6 linked regions of the Homo sapiens genome follow. The protein of the gene in region 1 purifies or fractionates together with the protein of each later gene. This does not show direct contact. Each region holds a gene or a part of one and is shown in the gene's direction. Other genes may lie near its edges. The genes, in order: C4BPB, PCSK6, SLC25A30, SLC25A16, MTO1 and OLFM2.

The links.
Region 2: the proteins of C4BPB (region 1) and PCSK6 purify together in Homo sapiens (affinity purification with mass spectrometry; one large-scale study listed by BioGRID and IntAct). This does not show direct contact.
Region 3: the proteins of C4BPB (region 1) and SLC25A30 purify together in Homo sapiens (affinity purification with mass spectrometry, with the first as the bait; one large-scale study listed by BioGRID). This does not show direct contact.
Region 4: the proteins of C4BPB (region 1) and SLC25A16 purify together in Homo sapiens (affinity purification with mass spectrometry, with the first as the bait; one large-scale study listed by BioGRID). This does not show direct contact.
Region 5: the proteins of C4BPB (region 1) and MTO1 purify together in Homo sapiens (affinity purification with mass spectrometry, with the first as the bait; one large-scale study listed by BioGRID). This does not show direct contact.
Region 6: the proteins of C4BPB (region 1) and OLFM2 purify together in Homo sapiens (affinity purification with mass spectrometry; one large-scale study listed by BioGRID and IntAct). This does not show direct contact.

Annotation. Positions count from the first base shown.
Region 1 is NC_000001.11:207,095,360-207,098,859, forward strand, and holds part of C4BPB (C4b-binding protein beta chain isoform 1 precursor), read left to right. Parts: coding exon of another isoform or gene 1-209; exon of another isoform or gene 210-670; intron 671-1,162; coding exon 1,163-1,256; intron 1,257-2,790; coding exon 2,791-2,905; intron 2,906-3,500. UniProt on the Homo sapiens protein: Controls the classical pathway of complement activation. It binds as a cofactor to C3b/C4b inactivator (C3bINA), which then hydrolyzes the complement fragment C4b.
Region 2 is NC_000015.10:101,304,708-101,308,207, reverse strand, and holds part of PCSK6 (proprotein convertase subtilisin/kexin type 6 isoform PACE4-AI preproprotein), read left to right. Parts: exon of another isoform or gene 1-882; coding exon 883-995; intron 996-2,470; exon of another isoform or gene 2,471-2,852; coding exon 2,853-2,950; 3' UTR 2,951-3,500. UniProt on the Homo sapiens protein: Serine endoprotease that processes various proproteins by cleavage at paired basic amino acids, recognizing the RXXX[KR]R consensus motif.
Region 3 is NC_000013.11:45,408,374-45,411,873, reverse strand, and holds part of SLC25A30 (kidney mitochondrial carrier protein 1), read left to right. Parts: exon of another isoform or gene 1-141; intron 142-393; 5' UTR 394-448; coding exon 449-512; intron 513-2,799; coding exon 2,800-2,947; intron 2,948-3,500. UniProt on the Homo sapiens protein: Antiporter that transports inorganic anions (sulfate, sulfite, thiosulfate and phosphate) and, to a lesser extent, a variety of dicarboxylates (e.g. malonate, malate and citramalate) and, even more so, aspartate.
Region 4 is NC_000010.11:68,480,011-68,482,523, reverse strand, and holds part of SLC25A16 (solute carrier family 25 member 16), read left to right. Parts: 3' UTR 1-2,513. UniProt on the Homo sapiens protein: May be involved in the transport of coenzyme A in the mitochondrial matrix. Very little is known about the physiological function of this carrier.
Region 5 is NC_000006.12:73,471,737-73,475,236, forward strand, and holds part of MTO1 (5-taurinomethyluridine-[tRNA] synthase subunit MTO1, mitochondrial), read left to right. Parts: intron 1-1,628; coding exon 1,629-1,918; intron 1,919-3,500. UniProt on the Homo sapiens protein: Component of the GTPBP3-MTO1 complex that catalyzes the 5-taurinomethyluridine (taum(5)U) modification at the 34th wobble position (U34) of mitochondrial tRNAs (mt-tRNAs), which plays a role in mt-tRNA decoding and mitochondrial translation.
Region 6 is NC_000019.10:9,930,016-9,933,515, reverse strand, and holds part of OLFM2 (noelin-2 isoform 2 precursor), read left to right. Parts: intron 1-3,500. UniProt on the Homo sapiens protein: Involved in transforming growth factor beta (TGF-beta)-induced smooth muscle differentiation.

The DNA of each region.
Region 1 (3,500 bases):
TTGCTCTGTTTCCCAGGCTGGAGTGCAGTGGCAGAATCTTGGCTCACTGCAACCTCCACCTCCCAGGTTCAAGCAGTTCTCATGCCTCAGCCTCCCAAGTAGCTGGGATTACAGGTGCGCACCCACGCTGGGCTAATTTTTGTATTTTTAGTAGAGACTGGGTTTCACCATGTTGGCCAGGCTGGTCTCAAATTCCTGACCTCAGGTGATCCACCCCCTTCAGCCTCCCAAAGTGCTGGGATTACAGGTGTGAGCCACTGCTCCCACCTTCTCCCCTTTTTCTGATACTCTCTTTGATATAGTTTGGATGTGTGTTCCTGCTCAAATCTCATATTGAATTGTAATCTCCAGTGTTGGAGGTGGTGCTTGGTGGGAGGTGACTGGATCATGCGGGTGGATTTCTCATGAATGGTCTAGCACCATCTCCCTAGGTACTGTCCTCATGACAGCGAGTGAGTTCTCATGAGATCTGGTTGTTTAAAAGTGTGTAACGCCTCCTCCCTCTCTCGTTCCTGCACCTGTTATGTGAGATGCCTCCCTCCCCCTTTGCCTTCTGCCATGATTGTAAGTTTTCCGAGGCCTCCCCAGAAGCCGAGCAGATGCCAGCACCATGTTTCCTGTACAGCCTGCAGAACTGTGAGCCAATTAAACCTCTTTTCTTTATAAATTACCCAGTCTCAGGTATTTCTGTATCACAATGTGAGATGGACTAATACACTCATGTTTCACAACTCTTATCCACAGGGGATGTCAGCTTCCACTTGAGCTCACACGCTTCATCTCCTCTCTCAGGGAGTTATTTCTTCAGCCTTCACCTATGGCCCAATTTTTCTTTTCTTGTACATTAACAATTAGCTTCTCTACAACTTAAAATTTCTTTCCTTGAGCTCCTGCTGTCAGATAATACTCCCAAATCCCTACTAACTCAGAAGATGGGCTGGGGGAAAGCTCTTTCCCATGGACAAATATGATTTAGAAGAGAAGGAAATGAATGAAGAACAGGTTTCCAGATCCCGCAGGTGTTGCTGTGAGGATGTCAGGTGCTGGCGCAGGTGTTGCTCTGAGGCTGTCAGGTGCTGGCATAAACAGCTGCAATTAGGGGTGCTGTTCATTGAGCGTGCCTGGCCCTCATAACTATGACTTCTATACTCGTTTCTCTCAGGGGACTGTGACCCTCCTGGGAATCCAGTTCATGGCTATTTTGAAGGAAATAACTTCACCTTAGGATCCACCATTAGTTATTACTGTGAAGACAGGTAAGTGAACACAGCCTGTCAAATGCCAGATCTTGCCCCTTGGCAGCATTGTTTTGGGGAATAACCCAGTCTGTGTCCACCTGGTCATCTGATTTCCTACTGCTGCAGGATTCTAAGCTCATTCTGATTTTGAGAGCTGCTTTGGCCCTCTGCTAGCTCTCCTCAATCCCTAGAAGACAGACTGATCCTACTAAAGTATCCTACTTACCCCAATGCAAGTATCTCTTTTTCCTCTCCGCCAAGACAAGATAAATTATTTAAAATGAATGGATTTGGCTGGGCGTGATGGCTCACACCTGTAATCCCAGCACTTTGGGATGCTAAGGCAGGCGGTTTGCTTGAGGCCAGGAGATCAAGACCAGCCTGGCCAACATGGCAAAACCCTTGTCTCTACTAAAAATACAAAAATTAGCTGGGCGTGGTGGCACACTCCTGTAATCCCAGCTACTCAGGAGGCTGAGGCATGAGAATCGCTTGAACCCAGGAGGCGGAGGTTGCAGTGAGCCTAGATGGCACCACTGCACTTTAACCCAGGTGGAAAAGTGATACTCTGTTTTAAAATAAATAAATAAATAAAATGTATGGGTTTTTTGTTTTTTTGTTGTTGTTATTTTTGAGACAGTGTCTCCCTCTGTCACCCAGGCTGGAGTGCAGTGGTGTACTCATAGCTCACTGCAACCTCTGCCTCCTAGGCTCACGAGATCCTCCCACCTCAGCCTCTCTAATAGCTGGGACTACAGGCATGGGTCACCACGCTTGGCTAATTTTTTAAGGTTTTGTAGAGACAGGGTCTCCCTATGTTGCTCAGGCTGGTCTTGAACTCCTGAGCTCAAGTGATCCTCCCACCTTGGTTTCCCAAAGTCCTGGAAAGTGCTGGAATTACAAACATGAATCACTGTGCCTGGCCTAAAATGTATGTTTTTCTAAAAAAAAAAAAAAAAAAAAATCAGAGAATATAAATACTAAAAAACAAACATAGAAGTGCAGAAATATAAAGACTTAGTGTATAGACCCTTAAAGCCCCCTAATTAACTCAGAGTCATGTGGCCTCACTGGCATTTCGATCTCGTTATATACCTTCAATGCACTTTGCAGGCAACTCTCATATTTTTCTGATGAAAAGCAATTGCTCCTTTTTAGCCCCTTCGCTAAGATTTATTTGCAGGTGTCTCTCATTTTCTACTCCTTTTTAGAGCTTAGATGCCAGATGCCTTTTTAGGTTATTGAATGATAAAGTGCTTCTATCACTCTCCCCACCCAAAACCTGGGTGTGTAAACACCTGATTCAGAATTTCTCACTTCTCTATGTTTTATGGGTTGACTCATCACTTGGGTCCTCTCCTACCTCCAGGAAAATGGTTTTACTTTGAACTGCTTTGTAATACCGAGATAACTTAAGCATGCATTGAGGCTCAAGGGCAGGGAGGTGGATTCCATCACAGCATGAAATACTGAAATACAACTACACAAAACCAGTCTCCATTACCCAATTCAGAAAGTGGAAAAGCTAAGCCTTGTTCTAATTTCTGTTCAGGTACTACTTAGTGGGCGTGCAGGAGCAGCAATGCGTTGATGGGGAGTGGAGCAGTGCACTTCCAGTCTGCAAGTTGATCCAGGAAGCTCCCAAACCAGAGTGTGAGAAGGCACTTGTAAGTAGGAGGCTCATATCTGTCTTGTTCACAGCTGGATCTCCAGGGCCTGGCATCACTCCTGGCATATGCTCAGTATATATCTGTTTAATGTGGGACATTTTGCTTTTGAATGGGTTGGCCTTGGCCTGGCTGTAGAAGGGACTCATAAACTATTAACTCACATTTTTATAAATGGAAGTTGGAAGTTCCCATTCACTACCATCATCACAAATACCTCATGAGACCCTGTTGGTAGAAGTTGTTGTCTCATGTGCCTTATAGAGCAGTGGTTCCCAACCTTTTTGGCACCAGGGATGGGTATCATGGAAGATGACTTTTCCACGGATGGGGGTGGGGAGAGTGGGGATGGTTTGGGGATGATTCAGATGCATTACATTTATTGTGTACTTTATTTCTATTATTATTACATTGTAATATATAATAAAATGATTATATAACTCACCATAATGTAGAATCAGTGGGAGCCCTGAGCTTGTTTTCCTGCAACTAGAGGGTCCCATCTAGTTAGGAGTGATGGGAAACTGACAGATTATCAGGCATTAGATTCTCATCTGGGAGTGTTGGGAAACAGTGACAGATCATCAGGCATTAG
Region 2 (3,500 bases), on another chromosome or scaffold:
CTGGACTCAGGACAGGCAGCAGCATAGCCGGGGTGCACTCACGGCCCCAGGATGGGAAACGTGCTCCTTCAAGCACTCGGCCCGCATCGGCAAGTGCTTTCTGTAGAGGGCACAATGGTCAGTCGTTCAGGCTTTTGGGGCCACACTGCCTCTGTCACAGCTACTCAGCTCAGCCACTGCTACACAAAAGATTGTCAATGAATGAGTGTGACTGTGGTCCAGGATAAATGCTGGATGTGGCCCTTGGGCTGTAGTGCACCAACCGTCCCCTGAGGTCACGTTTACCCTGCATTAGAAATAGCCCTGGCTGGTGTCCATCTCTGCGCAGGCTGGGCCAGGACCGTCCGAGAGGGGCAGGAATTGTGGGGCATCTCTCCCACTCCCCGAGGGTAAGCAGGCATGGCCACATATAGGTGACAGCAGCCTTCTGGTCAGCTCGAGTCAGGTGTGTCACATCCCTGGGTGGAGTCTGGCCTGGACCCCAAGCCTACAGCCATCGCAGCCCGGCAGCCGCTGGAGAGAGAAGACTGACACAGCTCTGGGAGCCGTGTGGTGGGGTGGGGGCTGGGTGCCAGGGCCCAGGAGGGTGTCCAGGTGAGCTGCGGGAAGCCTCGGAGGCCTGGCCCCTGATCCTGGGCTTGCTCCTGCCAACTGGCCATGGCTGTCTCTGCCCTCCCAGGGCAATAGTGAGGTCAGACAGGAGAAAAGACATGCAGACACTCAGCCCCTGTGTCAGGGAATGGTGGGCGACACAGCCTCTCCACAGAGGACCGAGGCTGAGGGGGTGGGAAGGAGGTGCAGGGAGGTGAGGGTTCTGGGAAGGGAGCCCGGAGTGGTGGAGCCTCTTCCCCAGACTTCAGCAGGAACGGTATCTTCCCACAGGTGTGACGAGAACTGCTTGAGCTGTGCAGGCTCCAGCAGGAACTGTAGCAGGTGTAAGACGGGCTTCACACAGCTGGGGACCTCCTGCATCACCAACCACACGTGCAGCAACGGTGAGCAGCAGCTGGGTTACCCTGGGGCTGCCTGTGGAGGAGCTCAGCTGGCCAGCTCGTGCTCCAAAGAGAAAAGCAAAGCCACATAGGCATGGCGGCTCCACAGACAGGCGTTCGTGCCCCTGATCCGATTGACTGTCTGGGATTCCTCTAGCTGATATGGAAGACAGCTGCCCTGTCTCCCAGCTTCCCTCTAGGCCTCTCACATCGATCAGAGAGGCATCCCAGCCACTGCTGATCTGTTTATTGAGTGACTCCTAAAAATGATTTTGTCCTTGTACTGGTCCCACTGCCATGCCATAGGCCGCCGGTGGCCCGGATGTGACGACATACCATAAAAGAAGCCTGACCTGGGGGGTCAAAGCCAGGAAGCCTGGAGGGTCTCTGCTCAGGACGAGGGGGACAGAGCCCAGAGTAGAGCACACGCTCAGCAGCAGCAATCCCAGCTCTGCAGGGATCCAGCATGGACCTGCATCTGTGCTGCAGGAGAGCCCTGGCTCTGCCATAGGATGGGGGACAAGGACAAGTTGTAAAAACAGAAACTTAAAAGGGCACCAAAGCTAAGTGCCCAGTTTGGGAATTCCAGGCACCAAGGAGGGTTGGCAGGACTCGGGCCTGGAGGTGCAGTGCAGGAGTCATTGTAGACACACGGGCAGGGAAGGGGGCTCTGGCCCAGCAAGCAGCAGGGTGGAGCCACATTCTGACAGCCAGGAGAGGAAGGCTCTCTGCTCCAGTGTCCAGGGTCAGGGCAGGTGGTCCTTGGGTATGAAGCTGGCACTGGCCCTGTCCAGGCAGAGCATGGAGCTTGTGGAGGGCCCTGGGATGCCTCCTTGCCTTGTTACTGGTTATTATTTTTGGGGGGTGGCGGGAGGGTTGTCTAATTATGTCCCTTCAAAGGCCCAGAAACTACTTCTTTGGGAAGTCACCTGCCCAGGTTATGTATCTAGCCCAAAAAAGTGTGGTTGCCACTGGAGGGCCTCCCAGGTCCACGGATGATGCATCCTCAAAGGCCTCTTCCCCTTGCTGCAGCGGTGTCCTCAGCAAGTCCTGTCCACGGCGGCTCCCTTCCCCCCATCCCCACTCCTCCCTGTCCGCCCCCTCCACCCTGGAAGCAGCTTCCATTCCCTCCTGCCTCCAGGCCCGTCCTCCGGCCTCCCCTACAGTCTTCCTCCTAAGCTCCACTGCCAGCAGTTGTCCAGAAAGACAGGTGCACATGTGCCCCACAGGCCCAGGCTGGGTGTTCTCCTGAGATCCCTCCCACACCACCCCCACATCCTGCTCATGAATCCCCTTGTCACTGAGACTCAGCAAGAGCCCCATATACCAGTGCCCTCCCGCCACACAGGGCTCCCAGAGTCAAGTGCATTGCAGGAGAGGGGCTTCAAGGGCTGCCATCCTGCTGCCCACCTCTGTCTGTGTCCCTCTTGCCCAGGGCACCACTGATGCCCAGCATATGTGGAATGATTGAAACAATATTTATTTATGTATTTATTTATTTATTTTTGAGACGGAGTTTTGTTCTTCTTGCCCAGGCTGGAGTGCAGTGGCATGATCTCAGCTCACTGCAACCTCTGCCTCCTGGGTTCAGGTGGTTCTCCTGCTTTAGCCTCCCGAGTAGCTTGGATTACAGGTGCCCACCACCATGCCCAGCTAATTTTTATATTATTAGTAGAGACGGGGTTTCACCATGTTGGTTAGACTGGTCTCAAGCTCCTGACCTCAGGTGATCCACCCACCTCGGCCTCCCAAAGTGCTGGGATTACAGGCATGAGGCACCGCGCCCGGCCTTGAAACAATCTTCACAGGCACCGAAGACTGACCTTTCCCTCTTTTGCCTTTCCTGATGCGGGGCCCCAGCTGACGAGACATTCTGCGAGATGGTGAAGTCCAACCGGCTGTGCGAACGGAAGCTCTTCATTCAGTTCTGCTGCCGCACGTGCCTCCTGGCCGGGTAAGGGTGCCTAGCTGCCCACAGAGGGCAGGCACTCCCATCCATCCATCCGTCCACCTTCCTCCAGACTGTCGGCCAGAGTCTGTTTCAGGAGCGGCGCCCTGCACCTGACAGCTTTATCTCCCCAGGAGCAGCATCTCTGAGCACCCAAGCCAGGTGGGTGGTGGCTCTTAAGGAGGTGTTCCTAAAATGGTGATATCCTCTCAAATGCTGCTTGTTGGCTCCAGTCTTCCGACAAACTAACAGGAACAAAATGAATTCTGGGAATCCACAGCTCTGGCTTTGGAGCAGCTTCTGGGACCATAAGTTTACTGAATCTTCAAGACCAAAGCAGAAAAGAAAGGCGCTTGGCATCACACATCACTCTTCTCCCCGTGCTTTTCTGCGGCTGTGTAGTAAATCTCCCCGGCCCAGCTGGCGAACCCTGGGCCATCCTCACATGTGACAAAGGGCCAGCAGTCTACCTGCTCGTTGCCTGCCACTGAGCAGTCTGGGGACGGTTTGGTCAGACTATAAATAAGATAGGTTTGAGGGCATAAAATGTATGACCACTG
Region 3 (3,500 bases), on another chromosome or scaffold:
TCTCAAAATGCTGGGATTACAGGCGTGAGCCATCATGGCTGCTGCAAATACTTATTGCATGAAGAATAGATTTAAGATAAAATAGACTTCCCAGAGAACAGCTTCCGCTGCACTACACTGAATACATACACGCATACCAAGGTATCAAAGTAGCTGATTACTTCTTGAGGTCACAGTAAAAATTAAGATCACTGATAAAGTAAGATTGGAAATTGTTGATTTGAGGTTGAGGAAATAGGGGTGCTTTGCTTTATTAAGGGGAGGCTCCCCTTGGGAATTGCTGCAGGGGTTTTGGTGATAGCACTCTCCAAATAAAACCTAGGGGAAGAGTTTGGAGAAGAAACTGCCTGTGTGAGAAGTTACAGCTTGATAATATCTTATTGTTGTGTCCAGGAAAAACAGCACTGGAGGCAATGTTTCTATAAATCAAAGAAGAGACAGTGTGAGAATGTCAGCCCTCAACTGGAAGCCGTTTGTGTACGGGGGGCTGGCCTCCATCACTGCTGAGTGCGGTAAGGACCTGAGGGTGGTGGATCACGTAGCCTGCTGTATGTGATGGTGTTTGATGTGAATGTAGTTCAAGTGTAGAATGTGAGATGATGAAATGTTTGTCTCAGAATTCAAAATGTCTGTTAGCTGGGTGTGGTGGCTCACGCCTATAATCTCAGCACTTTAGTAGGCTGAGGAAGGGGAATCTCTTGAGTCCAGGAGTTCGACACCAGCCTGGGCAACAGAGTGAAACCTCACCTCTATTAAAAAAAAAAAAATTAGCCAGGTGTGGTGGCACAGGCCTGTAGTCCCCGCTACTCGGGAGGCAGAGGTGGGAGGATTGCTTGAGTCCAGGAGGTCGAGGCTGCAGTGAGCCATGTGTGAACCACTGCACTCTCCAGCCTGGGTGACAGAGTGAGACCCAGTCTCAAAAAAAAGAAAGTTTTCTTTTGGTAATGCTTTTTAAGACAAAATAGTCATTTTGGCTGCTATTAGCAGTTTAGGGTTCGAAGTTTAGTGGAGAGAAAGTTGATCCTATTGACCAAACACAAGTTTTTTAAAATTTTTTGTTTTGAGACAGGGTCTGGTTCTGTTGCTGAGGCTGGAGTGCAGTCGTCTGATCTCGGCTCACTCCAGCCTCCGCCTCCCGTGCTCAAGCGGTCCTCCCACCCGGGTCTCCCAAGTAGGTGAGACTACAGATGTGCACCACCATGCCCGGCTAATTCTTGTATTTTTATTAGAGATGGAGTTTTGCCATGTTGCCCAGGCTGGTCTCGACTCCCAAGCTCAAGAGATCCACTTGCCTCGGCCTCCCAGAGTGCTGGGATTATAGGTGAGACTACAGATGTGCACGACCACGCCCGGCTAATTCTTATATTTTTATTAGAGATGGAGTTTTGCCATGTTGCCCAGGCTGGTCTCGACTCCCAAGCTCAAGAGATCCACCTCCCTTGGCCTCCCAAAGTACTGGGATTATTACCATGCTCAGCCTCAAACACAAGTTTTATGAATCATTTTTGGATTGTGTCTGTCCGTTTTCCTTGTCCTTTCCCCCAGCTTTGCCACTGTTAACCTGTTTGGCTGTAAAGAGGTTTGAGAAGCTCAAGGGTGTTCCCTGAGCCAGATGAGATGGACTGTAGTTATCTAGTCACTTTCTGATGATGCACATTATCCAGTTCCCATTTGTGACTTCCTCATCGGTTGGGTTCCACATCAGATCCTGTTTGTTTATTCTCTGGAGTCATTCATTCAGCAAACACTGATTGAGCAGCTGTTGAATGCCCTGTGCTGGGTTGGGGACACATCATTGCTTCCAGGGCTCAGTCACTGCTGTCCAAGGATAGAATACTGCCCCTGTGGGACTGGGGAGAATTGAGGCCAAGGTGGGTAAGCTGGATGAGCCGTGGTAACCACCCACTCACCAGCTTAGGCTCTCTGTGCTGGTGGGCTTTCCCATTGACACAGTGAATCAAGGTTACTGTCTGAGGATGGGTTTTATATATTTGGGTGGACTATTTGTTAGGTACAGTATTTAACATATTTATCTGCATTATCAGATTTATTTTATTTTATTTTGGAGACAGAGTCTCACTCTGTCACCCTGTCTGGAGTATGGTGACGTGATCTCGGCTCACTGCAACCTCTGCCTCCTGGGTTCAAGCAATTCTCCTGCCTCAGCCTCCTGAGTAGCTGGGGTTACAGGTGCCTGCCACCACGCCCAGCTAATTTTTGTATTTTTAGTAGAGACGGGGTTTCACCATGTTGGCCAGGTTGGTTTGGAACTCCTAACCTCAGGTGATCCGCCCACCTCAGCCTCCCAAAGTGCTGGGATTACAGGCATGAGCCACTGTGCCTAGCCAGATTAATTTTAGACTATAAAACACTCTCCCAAGTGGAAAACCACTTTAGAAAATGAACTTTTTTTACCTCTTTGTTCACATTCAACCCCATTTTAACCTTCATTTATATACAGAATAGTAACTTATGTTTTTCAATGGATTTCCTGTTTAGGTAAATCATACCACGTATTTGCTTTCTACAACAATGCAGCCTACCCAAATCCTGTGTAGAATAAGATGAGGTATAAATAAAAAGATAAAGAAAGGAAAATATATCTATGCATTTTTTGGGTTTTATTAATCTTTTGATTCCTCAATTTTTAAAAATATAAACAAGATTGCAAAGTGCCATTTCTTAATCACTTTCTTAGTTTATATTGTAGTCTGAATGTTTCCTCAGTAATATATCACTACGTATCCTTTATTTAGTGGAATTTCTTTTTATTAAGTGAATTTCTTTTTAAATTTTAAGGTACATTTCCAATTGATTTAACCAAGACACGGCTCCAGATTCAAGGCCAGACGAATGATGCAAAATTTAAGGAAATTAGATACCGAGGAATGTTGCACGCATTAGTGAGGATAGGCAGAGAAGAAGGGCTGAAAGCACTCTACTCGGGGTGAGTAGGCCTTCATGCATTTCTGTGTCACTGTTCACTGTTTCACATGGGTATAGACTTCAGACCAAGACTGCACAGATCACAAGTAAAAAGTTTGAGGTGTGTTTGAAAAGAACAAATAGCATGACAGATTTTTCACTTTTAATTTCAACTCTAATTTCTAAGTATATATATTATGCAGCAGATGTTTTGGTGAAACTGTTTTACTATATTCAAGTACAGACAGACAACAATAAAAAATTATGTTTGTTTAAAAACATTCTGTTCGGTTTTTCATGCTTTGAAAATAGCTCTTTTTCTTAGATATTCTGAATTAAGGAGGTTTTTGCCATAATGAAAATTATATGATGTTGATAAGAGTTGCAGTGAACTACTTTCCAGTCTTTCAGTATTTAATGAACAGTATTCTGTAGGCACTGGATAGTGAGTGAGACCTATATCAGAATACCTGCAGGAACAGAACGTGGACAGCCTCATGTCACGCTAAGCATCTTGATTTTCTCCAGTACACCACAGCACAAACTGGTGACCCACAGCCCTGCCATGGATCCAC
Region 4 (2,513 bases), on another chromosome or scaffold:
TGTGAAATATTTATTAATATAGATGTGAATATCAAAAAATGTTTCTAAGGTATTATGATGCATCAACTAGTTCTTCCATGTAAAATAATTTTAGTGCAATATGAAGACGTAGAAATGTAAAATATGATTTGAATTGTTATCCTTTATATTAAGAAAATGTTTTAAAATGTAAGAATTCCATTTATTCTGTTTAGAGTACTTTTTATGATTTATTATAAGCGTGTCATAAATGGGAAGGGAATATTTAAAGTTCTGTGTTCAGAAAGAGTAATTTGTAGAACTGATGTGACTTTTTTTTTTTTTTTGAGATGGAGTCTCGCTCTATCGCCCAGGCTGGAGTGCAGTGGCGCGATCTCAGCTCACTGCAACCTCTGCCTCCCGGGTTCAAGTGATTCTCCTGCCTCAGTCTCCCGAGTAGCTGGGACTACAGGTGCCCACCACCAAAAATTCGCCTGGCTAATTTTTGTATTTTTAGTAGAGACGGGATTTCACCGTGTTAGCCAGGATGGCCTCGATCTCCTGAACCTCATGATCTGCCCACCTTGGTCTCCCAAAGTGCTGAGATTACTGGCGTGAGCCACGGCGCCCGGCCCTTTGATGTGACTTTAAAGACATTAGAAGGCCAGGTGTGGTGGCTCACGCCTTTATTCCCAGCACTTTGGGAGGCCGAGTTGGGTGGATCACCTGAAGTCAGGAGTTTAAGATCAGCATGGTGAAACCCCACCTCTACTAAAAATACAAAAAGTAGCAGGTGTGGTGGCTCGTGCCTGTAGTCCCAGTTACTCGCGAGGCTGAGACATGAGAATTGCTTGAGCTCGGGAAGCGGAGGTTGCAGTGAGCTGAGATCACACCACTGCACTCCAGCCTGGGTGACAGAATGAGCCTCCATCTCAAAAAAAAGGAGACATTAGAAAACTAAGTTGAGTCCAGGCGTGGTGGCTCTTGCCTGTAACCCTAGCACTTTGGGAGGCTGAGGCGGGAGGATATCTTGACCCCAGGAGTTCGAGACCAGCCTGGGCAACATAGTGAGACCCCGTTTCTTTCAAACAAAAGAAGGAAAACTAAGTTGAAAGTGTTATTTTTGCTTCAATTTTTATTTCTTTACATAAAAGGTTTCTTGTCATACCTTGGTAAAAATTTGATGAGCTGGTTTCATTTTGAAAGCCTTTATTTTAAAAATAAGTATGTATCTTTGTATGATTTATAAGTGTACCAGTAGGTAGAAATACATGTGTTCTTGGCCAGATGTGGTGGCTCACGCCTGTAATCCCAGCATTTTGGGAGGCTAAGGCGAGTGGATCACCTGAGGTCAGGAGTTCAAGACCAGACTGGCCAACGTGGAGAAACCCTGTCTCTACTAAAAATACAAAAATCAGCCGGGCATGGTGGCGGGCGCCTGTAATCCCAGCTACTTGGGAGGCTAAGGCAGGGAGAATTGCTTGAACCCAGGAGGCACAGGTTGCAGTGAGCCAAGATTGCGCCATTGCACTCCAGCCTGGGTGGCTGTATAAAAGCCTGTATAAAAATTTCTTTTATACAGAGTGAGACTGTATAAAAGAAAAAAAAAGGCTGTACAAAAATTTCTTTTATACAGAGACTGTATAAAAGAAAAAAAAAAGAAATACATGTGTTCTTAAAACCATTTGTATATTTTCATTTCTAGACCACACTGTAGCTAATTATTGTTATTAAATGTTAAGATAATTTAAGTATATAAAATAAGTATTGAGCCGGGCATGGTGGCTCACCCCTGTAATCTCAGCACTTTGGGAGGCTGAGGCGGGGGGATCACGAGGTCAGGAAATCGAGACCATTGTGGCTAACACGGTGAAAACCTATCTCTACTAAAAATACAAAAAATTAGCTGGGCGTGGTGGCACGCACCTGTAGTCCCAGTTACTCAGGAGGCTGAGACAGGAGAATCACTTGAACCTGGGAGGCGGAGCTTGCAGTGAGCCGAGATCGTGCCACTGCATTCTAACCTGGGCGACAGAGCAAGACTCCATCTCAAAAAAAAAAAAAAAAAAAAAAAAGATACCTCAGTTAGGTTATCAGTAAAAGGGGATTGCAAATATCTTTTAAATAAAAATTTGCATTCTATATGTTATAGAATACAGAGGATATTAAAAATAAATTTTATCCATGTTTTGACAATTTCTTTCTTTCAACTGTTTACATATTGAAGCACAAATGCTAAACATAAGTCAGAATGGAAGAATATTTAAAATAATGACTGTGTTTATATCTGATTTATTTCAGATTGCCCAAAGTGCATCTTGCCAGGTTATCTTCCATTTGAAGACTGACATTTTATTTCTTTTTTGATCTTTATTGTTCCTCTCTTCCACCTCTCAGTGGGTATAGCTCTCTGGTCTGTAGAATGGGACAGTGGTCTGGTTTCCAGATTGATAAGTGAGGTATACCTCCTAGTTTTCAGTAATTACCTGTAGAAGGTGGAGAAGTTACTGGATATGTTTAATAATATCTCATTACATTCTTTTTTTTTTTTTTTT
Region 5 (3,500 bases), on another chromosome or scaffold:
AAATGCTATTTTGTGATCCTGTCCATATTTTATAGGCCCAACAATAACAATTTTTTTGTGGTAAAATATACAAACCATAAAATGTACCATTTTAACCATTTTTAAGTGTACAATTCAGTGCTATTAAGTACATTGACAGTGTTGTGCACCCATCACCACCAACGGTCTCTTGAACTTTTTCATCATCCCAAATTAAAATTCTGTACCCATTAAACAAAAAGTCCCCATTACCTGAAGAATAAACCTCCATTTTACTGTAAGGTAGAGCTATCTGAGGACAAAACCTTAATGTGTAAATTTCAGCTGTTTCTTTCATTTTCTGTTCCAAGTTTCATTTCTACATTCCTCCTCAGTTCTTATTCTCAGTTCTCTAATTTCTGAGCCTTTGCAGGGCAAATTAGTTCATTCTCATTGATATATCTTCTCTTCAGATATTAATACTTAAGTTATAGCTATCTCCCCTCTGCTAGATGAGTTACCATTCTTCCAAACACTTTCTATCTTTCAAAAATACATTGAAATTTCTCATCTTCTGACTGGTTCTTTTTCATTACTTGTCCTTTTGGTTTTATACCTTTTTTATTCCCCTATTTAATTTTCTTTGAGTTTTAGAAGGGAGAAGAAATGAGAGGTTGTATGCCATATTTATCCTGAAGTCTAAAATTAATTAATTTTTTAAATTAATTGAGACTAACTTTTTAGTGCTGATATGATTTTAGGTACATGTGAATTGGTGATAACACATTGTATTCTCTCTCCTAGATTGCTTAGATTGAGATTGATAACATATTAGCCTTCTTACTCATTTAAAATTCTTTGTCTGGGGTAGGGGAAATGGGAAGATACTGCTCAAAGGTTATACATTTTCAGCTGTAAGTTGAATAAGTTCTAGCAATCTAGTGAGCAGTATGGTAACTGCAGTTAATAATAATGTATGATATACTTGAAATTTGCTAAGGGAGTAGATCATAAGTGTTCTCACCACACAAAACGTGTAACTATGTGAGGTGATGGTTATATTAATTAGCTTGATTATGGGTATCATCACAGAAGGTATACTTGTATCAAAACACCATGTTGCATACTCTAAATATATACAGTTTTTTATATGTCTGTTATATGTCGATAAGTCTTGAAAAAACAAAAATATTAAAAAAGATTCTCAAGTTTTTAAAGACTGATAGTTTTTCTGTAGTTGTAATGTAAAATAGTCACATTCCATTTTGATCCATGGTAACAATTTAAAAAATGACTTTAGGCCGGGCGCGGTGGCTCACGCCTGTAAGTAATCCCAGCGCTTTGGGAGGCAGAGGTGGGTGGATCACCTGAGGTCGGGAATTCGAGACCAGCCTGACCAACATGGAGAAACCCCATCTCTACTAAAAATATAAAACTAGCTGAGCGTGGTGGCGCATGCCTGTAATCTCAGCTACTCGGGAGGCTGAGGCAGGAGAATTGCTTGAACCCGGGAGGCGGAGGTTGCAGTGAGCGGACATTGCACCACTGCCCTCCAGCCTGGCGATAGAGTGAGACTTCATCTCAGATAGATAGATAGATAGATAGATACATAGATACATAAATACATAGATACATAGATAATGACTTTATTCTTTTTTCTTGTTATTTAGTGGATGGAAGCACAGTATATGCAGAGAGTGTGATTCTGACTACTGGGACATTTCTGAGAGGCATGATTGTAATTGGATTGGAGACGCATCCAGCAGGACGTTTAGGGGATCAGCCTTCTATAGGATTGGCTCAGACACTGGAGAAGTTAGGGTTTGTGGTGGGAAGGTTGAAGACTGGGACTCCACCCCGAATTGCCAAAGAGTCCATTAATTTCAGTATTCTAAACAAGCATATACCGGACAATCCATCCATACCATTCAGCTTTACCAATGAGACAGTATGGATTAAGGTAAGATACTTTACGAAAACCTGGCTTACAGCTGGTATTGGCTATTCACAGCAGGAAGTACTGTAACTTTTTTTTTTTTTTTTTGGCAGCAGTTCACTTTATAGCACTATTGCTTATAGTGCAAAGAAATGATTTTTTTTTTTTTTTTTTGAGATAAGGTCTCACCTTGTCACCCAGGCTGGAGTGCAGTGGTACAATTATGGGTCACTACAGCCTTGACCTCCTGGGCTCAAGTGATCCTCCCACCTCAACCCCCTTGAGTAGCTGAGACCATAGGCATGAGCCATTGTGCCTGGCTTTTTAAAATTTTTTTGAGAAATGGGGTTTCACTATGTTGCCCAGGCTGGTCTCGAACTCCTGGGCTCAAAGGATCCACCCCCCTTGGCCTCCCAAAGTGCTGGGATTGCAGGTGTAAACCACCGAACCCAGCCAAAGAAGTTATCCTTTTTTTTTTTTGTGGTGGAGACTTGCTCTGTCACCCAGACTGGAGAGCAGTGGCACGATCTCAGCTCACTGCAACGTCTGCCTCCTGGGTTCAAGCAGTTCTTCTGCCTCAGCCTCCCGAGTATACAGGCACGCGCCACCACACCCGGCTAATTTTTATATTTTTAATAGAGACAGTGTTTCACCATATTGGCCAGGCTGGTCTCGAACTCCTGACCTCGTGATCCACCCATTTCAGCCTCTCAAAGTGCTGGGATTATAGGCGTCAGCCACTGCACTCAGCCTAAAGAAGTAATCTCTAAAAGGGATTAGCTAACTTGGCTAATTGGGTATTTCCCCATAAATCGTAAATTTCTTTTTTTTGTTTTTTTGAGACAGTCTCAGTCTGTCGCCCTGCTGGAGCGCAATGGTGAAATCTTGGTGCACTGCAACTTCCGCATCCTGGGTTCAAGCGATTCTCCCACCTCAGCCTCCCTAGTAGCTGGGATTGCAAGCACCCGCCATCATGCCTGGCTAATTTTTATAGTTTTGTAGAGACGGGGTTTCACCATGTTGGCCAGGCTGGTTTTGAACTCCTGACCTTAGGTGATCCGCCTGCCTCAACCTCCCAAAGTGCTGGTGCTGGGATTACAGATGTGAGCCACTGCACCCGACTTTTTTTTTTTTCTTTTTTTGAGACGGAGTTTCGCCATTGTTGCCCAGGCTGGAGTGCAATGGCGCAATCTCGGCTTACTGCAACCTCCGCCTCCCAGGTTCAAGCAATTCTCCTGCCTCAGCCTCCTGAGTAGCTGGGATTACAGGCTCCTGCCGCCACACTGGCTAATTTTTGTATTTTTAATAGAGACGGTGTTTTGCCATGTTGGCCGGGCTGGTTTCAAACTCCTTACCTTAGGTAATCCACCCTCCTCAGCCTCCCAAAGTGCTAGCATTACAGGCGTGAGCCACCGTGCCTGGCAAATCTTAAATTTCATTACTTTTATAACCTTACATATTTTGTAAATTAAGCTTTTATTTTAAAAAATTTTTTCATTTATTATTATTTTTAATAGAGACAGGGTCTCGCCATATTGCCCAGGCTGGTCTCGTACTCCTGAGCTCAAGCCATCCGCCCACCTCAGCCTCTCAAAGTGCTGGGATT
Region 6 (3,500 bases), on another chromosome or scaffold:
CTGTAATCCCAGCACTTTGGGAGGCCAGGGTGAGTGGATCACTTGAGGTCAGGAGTTTGAGACCAGCCCGGCCAACATGGTGAAACCCCGTCTCTACTAAAAATGCAAAAAATTAGCCAGGTGTGGTGTTGCACACCTGTAGTCCCAGCTATTCAGGAGGCTGAGGCAGGCGAATTGCTTGAACCTGGGAGGCAGAGGTTCCAGTGAGCCAAGGTCATGCCACTGCACTCCAGCCTAGGCAACAGAACAAGACTGTCTCAAAGCAAAAAAACAGAAAAAGATTACAAGGTGGGGGCTATTTGAGCCAGTGTGGTCAGGGAAGGTGTCTCTAAGGAAGTAGTGTTTCAGGTGACATCTGAAGGAGGTGAGAGAGGGAGCCTTGTGGGTGTCTGGGGGAAGAGCATTGAAGGTGGGAGGAACAGAAGGTGCAAAGGCCCTGGGGTAAGAACAAGCTTGGTGAGTTTCAGAAGCAGTGTGGACGCTGGTGTGGCTGGAGAGGTCGCGGGGAGATGAGGCCGGGGAAGCCAGACCACTTAGGAACTTGTAAGCTGTGGGCAGAAGTTTGGATTTGACCCAGAGAGCAGGAGAACAGGAAAGCAGGGCCTGTCAGAGGCATTGTCCATTCATCCAGGATCTATCCAAGATGTTCTGGGTTCTGGCCTGGGAGTGACTACCAGAGAGCTTGACAGTTCTGAGCCCCACTATTTTCCTTGTGGAAAAGATGCCTTCCTGATCCCTGCGAAGGCCTCCCTAAGATCTAGCTACATCGTTGGCACTATCTGGGTTTGGGACCAACTCTTTCCTGGGGCTTTCAGAGGATGGGGAGAAGGAATAATTCAGTTTAGATCACGTGCCTCAGGGACTTCACACTTGCTGTTCCCTCTGCCTGTGACACTGTTCCCCCTGGTAGCTATTTATCTCTGATTTCTGCTTAAATGTCACCTCCTCCAAGAGGCTCACCCTGAACAGCTAAGTGAAATAGCCCCCTGCTGCCACTCTCTGAGTGCTTACTCCGTGTTCTTTTTCTTTCTCTCTCTTTCTTTCTTTTTTTTTTTTTTTTTGAGACTGAGTCTCACTCTGTTGCCTGGGCTGGAGTGCAGTGGCGCAATCTCGGCTCACTGCAAGCTTTGCCTCACCGGTTCAAGTGATTCTCGTGCCTCAGCCTCCCGAGTAGCTGGGACTACAGGCACGTGCCACCTGATGCCCAGCTAGTTTTTGTTGTATTTTTAGTAGAGACAGGGTTTCACCATGTTGGCCAGGCTGGTCTTGAACTCCTGACCTCAGGTGATCTGCCGCCCAAAGTGCTGGGATTATAGGCATGAGCCACCACGCCCGGCCATATTTTTCTTTATAGCCCTCGTTTCCACATTTCTATGATTCTTCTATTCATTCATTCTCTGTTTCCCCACTAGAGCGGCAGTTTATCAGGGTTCAGCTAGCTTTGTTGTTTCTCCAGTGTCTAGAGCAGAGCCTGACACACAGTAGGTGCTCAAGAAATATCTGCTGAATGGATGAATGGATGGATGGATGGACCCCCTCACACACACAGAGTGTCTTTCTTTCTCAAACCACAGGATTCTTTTATCAAGAGAGTGTCAGGGGAACACTCGCTCCTGGATGGAAGGCACCAAGAAAATCCATTCTTCAGGCCAGGTGTGATGGCTGATACCTATGATCCCAGCATTTTGGGAGACCAAAGCCAGAGGGTCTCTTGAGGCCAGGAATTTGAGACCAGCCTGGGCAATACAGCAAGATCCCATCTCTACAATAACTTTTTCTTTTTATTTCTTTTTTTTTTTTTATTTTTGAGATGGAGTCTTGTTCTGTCACCCATGCTGGAGTACAGTACAGTATTGTGATGATCTCAGCTCACTGCAACCTCTGCCTCCCGGGCTCAAGAGATTCTAGTGCCTCAGCCTCCCGAGTAGCTGGGACTACAGGGGCGTGCCACCACACCCAGCTAATTTTTGTATTTTTAGTAGAGATGGGGTTTCACCATTTTGGCCAGGCTGGTCTCGAACTCCTGACATCTTGATTTGTCTGCCTCGGCCTCCTAAACTGCTGGGATTACAGGCGTGAGCCACCGTGCCCGGCCTCTGCAGTAACTTTAAAAAAAATTGGCCAGGCTTGTAGTTCTACTCAGGAGGCTGAGGTGTGAAGATCACTTGAGCCCAGGAGTTTGAGGCTGCAGTGAGCTATCATTGCACTACTGCACTCCAGCTTGGGCGACAGACTGAGACCCTGTCTCCACAAAAAAGAAAGAAAGAAAACCCATCTTCTTTACCTGTGCCTGACATTCCACCGATAGGGCACTGTTGTTTAGGGGTAAGACGATGTTCTCCTGGGGCTCCTTTAGAGCATGTAAATGTCCCAGTGGAGGGAAGTAAAAGGAAATTTAAAGACTCCGAGTTAGTGTAGGAAAGAGCCCCTTGGGGCTGGATTTAAGATTATGGAGCTTGAGCGACATCTAGTGGTCGAGTGAGGTTTGTGCAGGGACTGTGTGCGTCTGTGTGACTGGTGGGTGAATGTGTGTGGTTGTGCACCTGTGCGTGGGCGCGTGCGTATGTGGGATGGGGGTGCCCAGGTCAGGGTAAAACAGGTGAGATACTCGCCGCGGGTGCAAACATTTTAAAAAGTTGATGATGATGATGATGATGATATTTGAAACAGAGTCTTGCTGTGTCGTCCACACTGGAGTGCAGTGGTGCGATTTCGGCTCACTGCAATCTCTGCCTCCCGGGTTCAAGCGATTCTCCTGCTCAGCCTCTCGAGTAGCTGGGATTATAGGCGCACAGCACCACAGCCGGCTAAATTTTTTTTTTTTTGTATTTTTAATAGAGACAGGGTTTCACCACGTTGCCCACTCTGGTCTCGAACTCCAGACCTCAGATGATCTGCCCGCCTTGGCCTCCCAAAGTGCTGGGATTACAGGCGTGAGCCACGGTGCCGGGCCTATTTCTAAGACGGGGTCTTGTTCTGTCACCCATGCTGGAGTGCAGTGGTGCAGTCATAGCTCACTGAAGCCTCCAACTCCTGGGCTCAAGTGATTCTTCTGCCTCAGCCTCCTGAGTAGCTAGGGTGACAGGTACATGGTACAGAGTTCAGCTATAGTACAAAATTTAAGGGTATGCCCCCCAAAAAAATAAAAACCAGTAACCAAGATAAATAATATTTTAATGGAACATTTTAAGAAAAATCTAAATTGATGCAAGAAAAATCTATAATGAATAAAAACAAATTTTTAAATAAATATGGGCTCCCCCTCTGCACTTGCATAACTTGCCTCACTCTAACTTTGGCCCCATAGGCATGTGTCTGTGGTGTCATGCGTGTATGTGTATGTTTGGTGACTGTGTGCATGTTCAGGGACCATGAGCACAGGGACATGCTTGTATCATCATCACACCAGTGACTGTATCCATGTAGGCCAACCATATGGTATGTGTGGATTTCTTTCTTTCTTTCTTTTTTTTTTTGAGATGGAGTTTCGCTCTTGTTGC